Linked DNA regions of Homo sapiens: region 1 is linked to region 2. The links come from fine-mapping of genetic effects on gene expression. A gene starts in region 2. The other region holds a variant in brackets. All regions are shown on one strand. Distances are from middle to middle.

Region 1 (4,381 bases), 190 kb after region 2:
GGGTCTGGCACGTGCCCGCCAGGCCAGTCTTGACCTGCAGTGGCTTAATTCCGCTAGCTATGATGGGACCTCAGACCTGGCTACCGTGGAGTCCTACGACCCCGTGACTAACACGTGGCAGCCGGAGGTGTCCATGGGCACAAGGCGAAGCTGCCTGGGTGTGGCCGCCTTGCATGGACTCCTGTACTCGGCCGGCGGCTATGACGGGGCCTCCTGCCTGAACAGGTAGTTGGGGTTGGGGCCCCAGTGGCTTTGTACAGTCCATCTGCAAGAGGCAAGTTTGTGTCACCATCACAGGGGTCGTATCTGATGGGGTGTTAAAGGAGGTGATCCGCGAGGCCGTTTCACCCCAGGCCACTGCCACACTGGGCCTGAACTCTTGGCTTTGCTGCCCCAGTGCCCTTTCCTCTCTCGGGTCCTTACCCCCAGTCCAGAGGCTGGGCCCAGGTGGGTGTGCACCCAGGGTTGTTCAGGCAGCCAGGGTCCTGTGCCCACCAGCGGGCCCTGCCTGGTAGGACTTTGCGGTCTGAGTTTGACTCCTAGGGTAAGATTTCAGCCATTCCGCTGGGGAGGGCAGGTCCTGGGGCCGGGACGCCTTTCTGTCTCTGCTGAGCTGTGGCTGCGGTCCTGGTGCCCACAGTGCTGAACGCTACGACCCCCTGACCGGAACGTGGACGTCCGTCGCTGCCATGAGCACCCGGAGGCGCTATGTGCGAGTGGCCACGCTTGGTGGGTGATGGGGCCTGCCTGGGGGGCATCCCCACCTTCCCCCACCGTGGAGACCCCACTCCCAGCAGGAGTGCCACGGGTGTGTTGACTTCCGGCAGATGGGAACCTGTATGCTGTGGGCGGCTACGACAGCTCCTCACACCTGGCCACTGTGGAGAAGTATGAGCCCCAGGTGCATAGTGCACCCCTCCTGGCCACCCCCTCCCGTGCGCCGCGGGGCCCTCCTCCCTCTGTTTACCCACATCCCCCCCATTCCTGACACCCCACCCTGGAGTCGGGGCTGCGGCAGAGGAGGGATGCCAGTGGCGGGTCTGCGTCCAGCCCACGCCCTCGCCCCCAGGTGAACGTGTGGTCGCCCGTGGCGTCCATGCTGAGCCGACGCAGCTCAGCGGGCGTGGCCGTGCTGGAGGGTGCCCTGTACGTGGCAGGGGGCAACGACGGCACCAGCTGCCTCAACTCGGTAGAGAGATACAGTCCAAAGGCTGGAGCCTGGGAAAGCGTGGCGCCCATGAATATCCGCAGGTCCGCAGTGGGGCTGCGGGGAGGGGGGCGCGGGTCCGCAGTGGGGCTGTGGGAGGGGTCCGCGCGTCCGCAGTGGGGATGTGCTGCGGGGAGGGGGGCGCGGGTCCGCAGTGGGGATGTGCTGCCGGGAGGGGGGCGCGGGTCCGCAGTGGGGATGTGCTGCCGGGAGGGGGGCGCGGGTCCGCAGTGGGGATGTGCTGCCGGGAGGGGGGCGCGGGTCCGCAGTGGGGATGTGCTGCCGGGAGGGGGGCGCGGGTCCGCAGTGGGGATGTGCTGCCGGGAGGGGGGCGCGGGTCCGCAGTGGGGATGTGCTGTGAGAAGGGAGTTCTCCCAACCTCAGCGAGCATGTCCCGCCACCACCCCTTTTTGTGGTGCAGCCCCTCCCCCCGCATCCCTTCCTGCAGCCAGGGGCTCACCCCGCCTTCCCCCCAGGAGCACGCATGACCTGGTGGCCATGGACGGATGGTTGTACGCCGTGGGGGGTAA[C/T]GACGGTAGCTCCAGCCTCAACTCCATCGAGAAGTACAACCCGAGGACCAACAAGTGGGTGGCCGCATCCTGCATGTTCACCCGGCGCAGCAGTGTGGGTGTGGCGGTGCTGGAGCTGCTCAATTTCCCGCCGCCATCCTCCCCGACGCTGTCCGTGTCCTCCACCAGCCTCTGACCCACCTACCACCAGAGGCCTGCAGCCTCCCACATGCCTTAAGGGGACCGTGGCCCCCACCAGGGACGTCCTGCGCCATCCGTTCACGTCTCTGCATCCATTCCTTCATGTCTTTATTTAGTTGTTTATTTATTTAGTTATTTATCTTATTTATTGAGGGGTGAGGAGTGCCACGGCTGCCCGTTTACACCTTTAGCGTCTGGTCCTCCTGCGTGTCCTCCCCTCCACTGCCTGCATGGGGGGCGCGGGGAGTGACCAGGCGGGGGCCTCACCGCCCCAGGGCCGTTGCCTGCTCAGACCTTGCAGGCTGTGGAGCAAGAGGCCCTGGGTCTCTCCAAGCAGCTGCAGACCCCAGCTCGAATTTTGCACATGGCGGGGTCCCGGGAAGGGTGGGGAGCAGTTGTCCTTCCTGTCGTCGTCTGCCGTGTGCCATCTTTCCTGGATCTTGTAGTGGGTGCACACGCGTGCACTGGGACCCCACACAGCAATACGAGTCCAACTTAATAAACACATTTCTGGGGTTCCTCAGGCTGAGCATCTCTCTCTGGCATGTGGGGCAGCTGCGCAACTTTGGGTCCTGTCTGGGGTCCAGGGTGAGGGGTGTGGGGGGGTGCCCTGAGATGCGCAGGCATCTGGGAGCTGCAAGGCAGAGCTGTGCGTCCAGGGAGGGTGGGGGCCGTGCAGTTCCTGTGGACCAGCGTCCCAGTGTGGGTGGCGTTTGCCTGGGCTGGGTACTGAGGCCGAGGTCCCCGCCACATCGTGGGCTCTGGGGTTAGGGCTGGGGAGGACAGCCTTGCCCCCGAGTGCGCTGACTGTCTTGGCCGTCTAGGGGGCATGTGGCCTCCCTGAGTCCCCTTAAGCCTTGGGGACCCTGACTCGGGTCTGTGGCGAGGGGGCCCAGGCAGGAGGGGAGGCTGCGGTGGCTTTGGCCGCCGTCTCCTGTGCTGGAACTCCTGCCTCAGCCCTCCCTGCAGTCACCGGTGACTCGGGCCGGCCAGAGTTTAGATGGAAACAGGATGTGTGGGCACGTTGTCCCGGGGGGCCTGGAAGGTCGCCCCGGGTTCACCAAGCCGGAGCACAAGCAGGTGGGGTACCTCTGCACACTGGAGGCCTCGTCTGGGCCAGAGGGGTGCTTGCCCCAAGGCTGGCCTCTCGAGTGGAGGGCCCAGGGCAGAGACCTGCACGGCTCAGGTAGGGGCCAGGCCTCTTCCAGAAAGGCTCCACCCTCGCCCAGGCCCTGGTGCCGGGCGGGACGTCCCGGAGCCCCGCCTGCCCGCGGGAGGCGGGGGCAGGAGGCTGTGGACAGGGACCCAGACTTGCCGACCTGTACGACTCTGGCCATGGGGAACAGCCACTGTGTCCCTCAGGCCCCCAGGAGGCTCCGGGCCTCCTTCTCCAGAAAGCCCTCGCTGAAGGGAAACAGGTGAGCGGGGCGTGGGTGCGGCCACCTGGGCGCAGGGCTCCCCCACCCGCTCCGGGGCCAAGCCACGAGACCCCTTGCCTTGTCCCCAGAGAGGACAGCGCGCGGATGTCGGCCGGCCTGCCGGGCCCCGAGGCTGCTCGAAGCGGGGACGCCGCCGCCAACAAGCTCTTCCACTACATCCCGGGCACGGTGAGCGCGGCGTGCACGGTGGCTGTGGTCTGGGAGCGTGGCTCTGCCCGCGCGTGTGTGCCGTGTGTCCGTGCAGCTCAGGGTCTTCCCCTCGCCCCCGGGGCGTTCAGACCCCGGTAGGTGAGGAGCCGACGCTGACTGCCCCGCCCTGGGGAGCTCATCCGGCCGAAAGTCTGAGCGGAGAGCGAAACCGCGACGCAGGACTGAGTCAGTCGGGAGAGAGCTGGGCGGGGCGGGCCGCGGGCGGGGCCTCCCGGGACCTCCTCCCGCAGGGGACCAGCGCACGTGTCTCTGTCGCTGCAGTGGGGCTTGGGGTCGTGCCGGCAGGTAGTGTCACTTGAGAGTAAGGGGCCTCAGATGAGCAGCGAGCCAGCCGGTCACCTACACCGGCCTTTCTCCCTGGGTGTCCCGCAGGAAGTTGCCGCTGGGTATGGCCGCCTGGTCCACAGCAATCCCTCTGTGCACGCGCCGGCCTCCTCCCAGCTTGCCAAGGCCATGCAGCAAGGAGGTGTCTCCCAAGCACACACTAGGCCACCTCTCCGTCAAAGGAGCAGAAGACCACCCCCATGCCCACCCCCCCCCCAGCCCCTGTGGGACTAAGGGTCTTCACAGGGTAGATCCCAGCCCCTTTCAGATGTGTCTGGTGCTGGGATGAGGGAACAGGACCAGGAACCTGGGCTTCAGGGCAGACAGGAACCCCCACTGCACCCCCGTCAGGCAGCCTGGATGGGTGGGCTCCGCTATGTGCAGGCCCTAGGAGCATCTGCGGGAGAGGACGCCTGCCCTGCACTCCTGGGTCCAGCAGCTGGCATGGCCGTGCAGACCCCTTTGCCAACATGCCCCCGCCAGGCAGGAAG
Region 2 (4,381 bases):
TCGAACTCCTGACCTCAGGTGATCCACTGACCTTGGCCTCCCAAAGTGCTGGGATTACAGGTGTGAGCCACCATGCCTAGCCAAGAAACCCTTATTTTAAAACAAGCCAGGCGCGGTGGCTCATGCCTATAATCCCAGCACTTTGGGAAGCCAAAGCGGGTGGATCACTTGACGTCAGTAGTTTGAGACCAGCCTGGGCAACATGTTGTAACCCCATCTCTACTAAAAATATATTTTAAAAATTAGCTGGGCATGGTGGTGGGCACCTGTAATCCCAGCTTCTCAGGAGGCTGAGGCAGGAGAACCACTTGAACCTGGGAGGTGGAGGTTGCAGTGAGCGGAGATCACGCCACTGCACTCTAGCCTGGGTGACAATAGAAAGACTCCATCTCAAAAACAAAACAAAACAAAACAAAACAAAAAACCACTAAAAAAAAGACTCCATTTCAAAAACAAAACTAAAACCAAAAACACAACACAAATGTAGTACACAAATGAAAATAATTACTGTGTTAAACACAGTTTCATAGAAAATAAAAGACCAATCAAATACAATAAGCTGCCTTTTTAGATGGGTATGTTATTCTTCTTTCACAGCTAAAGAAACAGGCTCAGAGAATGTTATTTGATTGGACCGTGTTGCATTTCTGGACAGTGCAGCTGAGATCAGACTTTGTGTGTAACTCCACTAGCCTACCAGGGTGCCTCTCATAAAGCTAAGAAATGTAAATTTGGCCTAATATACAAAGTTGCCAGGGCAGCACTGGGTCAATTCTACATACAGTACTTCTATGTTCATCAAGGGAAACCTTAAGGGAAAGTGAAAATGCTTCTAGAAGGCGACTGGACACCAGCGCCTTTGCTTGTTGCCTTTGGGCTCTTCTTCTAAGGCCAACAGTGACCTGAAATTATTGACTGGCTTTTCAATCAAGTGGACAAAATGGTACCAAGGTCGGCAACATCAGACAAATTTACTTGAGGGCCTTATCTATGCGCTTTGAAAGACAAAACTGCTTTTGTAAAGGACACTGTATTTCAGAAAAACATAATCATATTAACAAATAATAACACTGTAAAATGCTGATGTGTTGAATGCTACTTTAGAAAAACATGCTCAAATCTAGGGAAAAAATTTGATACAAAACTACGTATCAATTATCTAGCTAGCTATCTATCTAGAGACATGCTTTCATTCTATTGCTCAGGATGGGAAGCAGTGGGATTATCATAGCTCACTGCAGCCTTGAGCTCCTGGCCTCAAGTGATCCTCCTGCCTCAGTCTCCTAACTAGCTAGGGCCACAGGTGGACACAGTTATGCCTGGGTTTTTGTTTGTTTGTTTTGTAGAGACAGGGTGTCACTACATTGCCCAGGCTGGTGTCAAACTTTGGAGTCTCGCTGTGTCGCCCAGGCTGGGGTGCAGTGGTGTGATCTTGGCCCAGTGCAACCTCTGCCTCCCGGGTTCAAGTAATTCTCCTTTATCAGCCTCCCAGGTAGCTGGGACTACAGGCATGCGCCACCACGGCCAGCTAATTTTTGTATTTTTTGTAGAGACTGGGTTTCACCATGGCCAGGCTGGTCTCCAACTCCTGACCTCAGGTGATCCACCCGCCTCGGCCTCCCAAAGTGTTGGGATTACAGGTGTCAGCCACTGAGCCTGGCGGAGCACTTTATGTTATTAAGTAGCCTAACCCAGGTGGGTCGCTGTCCCTCACGCCTGTAATCCCGACAACTCTGATGGCCAAGGTGAGAAGATTGCTTCAACTCAGGAGTTCGAAACTGGCCCGGGCAACATAGCGAGGCACCCCCCGACCCCATCTCTAGAAAAAAATACAAAAATTAGGCCAGGTGTCCACCGCGCCCGGCTAATTTTTGTATCTTTTGTAGAGACGGGGTTTCGTCATGTTGCCCAGGCTGGTCTCGAACTCCTGAGCCCAAGCCATCCATCCTCCCGCCTCGGCCTCCCAAAGTGCTGGGATTACAGTAGGGCCCAGCCAGCCTCATGTTTTATTTAGCAGTCCCTCCCTGTTGCACACCTGGATAGTTTTTTAAATTTTTTTAGACAGGGTTTACCTCAATCTCGCAGGCTGGAATGCTGTGGTGGGATCATAGCTCACTGGAGCCTTGAACCTTTGGGTTCAAGTAGCTGGGGGGCTGAGGTAGGACTACAGAGATGGGGTTGCGCCATGTTGCTAGGCTGCTCTTGGCCTGAAGGGTCCTCCCGCCTCGGCCGCGCCAGACATAGTTTTCTATTTTTGACCAACATAAACACTGTGCTGGGTCTGAATTTTTCAGCTACCCTTCTTCAGCCGGCAACACACAGAACCTGGCGGGGAGGTCACTCTTACCAGTCCCCACTCTGATGAGAAAACTGCCCAGCTCCAGGCACCATGGCGCCCCAGTGATGTAGCCGAACACCCGCGCCTCTAACGTCGCCAACGGCCCACCTCTATGGTGTCGGCGAAGACCCGCCCTTGTGACGTCACGGAAGGCGCACCCTTGTGACGTCACAGGGGACTACCACTCACGCAGAGCCAATCAGAACTCGCGGTGGGGGCTGCTGGTTCTTCCAGGAGCGCGCATGAGCGGACGCTGCCTACTGGTGGCCGGGCGGGATGTAACCGGCTGCTGAGCTGGCAGTTCTGTGTCGCTAGGCTTCTGCCCGGCCGCCGCCGCACATAAGCCACGAGGAGGAGCTTTACGACTTCCCGGTCTTCGGCGCCGGGCGCAGCAAGGGCCAGACTCTGCGCTAGCAGGCGCTGCGCGCCAACCGGCCGGCACCTGTCGCAGAAGGTGCAACCGATCGCACTGTCGCGCAGAAGCTCCTCAATGGCCAGCGCCAGCTGCAGCCCCGGCCGCCCACTCGCCTCATCTGAGCCTGGGTACGTGCGCTCCACAACGCCTCCCCCAGCCAGGGCCCGGGGATCCCCGGGAGCGTCCCCGGCTACCTGGCGCCGCTCATCCTGGGTAGGGTCGGCCCCCTGAGGCTGCCCGGCATGAGGGAGTTGCACCCCTGAGCTTGACCTCTGACGGTCCTTTGTAATAGCATTAAGTCTTTGAAACTTGTAGCGGGGTAGAAGGGGCTAGGAAATGAAGAAAACATCTTTTTAAAAATATAAGCAGTCGGCTGGGCGAGGTGGCCCACACCTGTAATCCCAGCACTTTGGGAGGTCGAGGCGGGTGGATCACGAGGACAGGAGTTCAAGACCAGCCTGGCCAGCATGGTTTCACTGAAACCCCGTCTCTACTAAAAACACAAAAATTAGTCGGGCGTGGTGGCAGGTGCCTGTAATCCCAGCTACTCGGGAGGCTGAGGCAGAGAATTGTTTGAACCCGGGATGCGGAGGTTGCAGTGAGCGGAGATCGCGCCACTGCACTCCAGCCTGGGCAACAGACCAAGACTCCGTCTAAACAAACAAATATATGTGTGTATATATATGCGATCGAGCCCGGGAGGTTGAGATTACAGTGAGCTGAGATTATATAAGCGATCGAGCACTGGAGGTTGATGTTACAATGCGCTGAGATTGCGCCATTGCACTCCAGCCTGTGTAACAGAGGGAGACTCTGTCTCTAAAAAATTATATGCAAGTGAGAGCTTTTCTTCCAGCACTCATGCTCAGACTGAAGAAAGTAATTGGGCCAGGCCCGGTGGCTCACGCCTTTAATCCCAGCATTTTGGGAGGCGGAGGCGGAAGTGGGTGGATCACTTGAGCTCAGGAATTCCAGACTAGTTTGGGCAACATGGTGGAACCCTTTCTCTACAAAAATACAAAAAATTAGCTGGACATGGTGGCACGCGCTTGTAGTCTCCGCAACTTGCCGGGCTTAGGCGGGAGAATCGCTCAGCTGCAGCCTCGACCTCCAGGGGCAATCCATTTCAGCCTCCCAAAGTGCTGAGATTACAGGAATGAGCCATCGTGCCTGGCTTTACACTATATTTTAACACTTTTTTTGAAAATGGAAACTTTTACAGGCAATTCACTTCCTTCAAACTAATGATAAGGAAGTGATGCTGTTCTGTTCTGTTTTGTTTTTTGTTTTTGTGGGTTTTTTTTCTTTTTTGAGATGGGGTCTTGCCCAGGTTGGAGTGAGGTGGTGCAAACAAGGCTCACTGCAGCCTTGACCTTCGGGCTCAAGGAATCCTTCCCCGTCAGCCTCCCCGGTAGCTAGGACTACAGGTGCATGCTACCACGCTTGGCTAATTCTTTTTTTGAAATGGAGTCTCACTCTGTCTCCCAGGCTGGAGTGCAGTGGTGCAATCTCGGCTCACTGCAGGCTGGTCTCAACCTCTGACTTCGGATGGTCCACCCACTTCTGCATCCCAAAGTGCTGGGATTACAAGTGTGACCCACCGCGCCTGGCGATTTTGCTCATTTTAG

Which allele goes with the higher level. Alleles are on the strand shown, and positions count from the first base shown. SD is a standard deviation of normalised expression in the study named.
In carriers of allele C in region 1, the expression in subcutaneous fat of the gene that starts at base 2,587 in region 2 tends to be higher than with T alone (large effect, 1.4 SD a copy in FUSION).

The links. PIP is the estimated chance that this variant, and not a neighbour inherited with it, causes the effect.
Region 1: its variant is the best candidate, but not a certain one, in a credible set for the expression of LINC01409 in subcutaneous fat (FUSION, PIP 0.64).

What each region holds. Positions count from the first base shown.
Region 1 is chr1:963,280-967,660 of GRCh38, forward strand. KLHL17 (kelch like family member 17) reads left to right here. Exons shown (of 12, transcript NM_198317.3): 8 at 58-225; 9 at 641-729; 10 at 828-901; 11 at 1,070-1,251; 12 at 1,684-2,440. The coding sequence ends at 1,912. PLEKHN1 (pleckstrin homology domain containing N1) reads left to right here and starts at 3,203. Exons shown (of 16, transcript NM_032129.3): 1 at 3,203-3,335; 2 at 3,425-3,524. The coding sequence starts at 3,253. RefSeq lists silencers at 3,095-3,414, 3,685-3,844. The variant C/T (reference allele first, on the strand shown) is at 1,738.
Region 2 is chr1:776,212-780,592 of GRCh38, forward strand. LINC01409 (long intergenic non-protein coding RNA 1409) reads left to right here and starts at 2,587. Exons shown (of 6, transcript NR_187359.1): 1 at 2,587-2,881. It overlaps LOC100288069 (a long non-coding RNA gene), which reads right to left and starts at 2,423. Exons shown (of 20, transcript NR_168328.1): 1 at 2,073-2,423. RefSeq lists an enhancer at 2,140-2,709.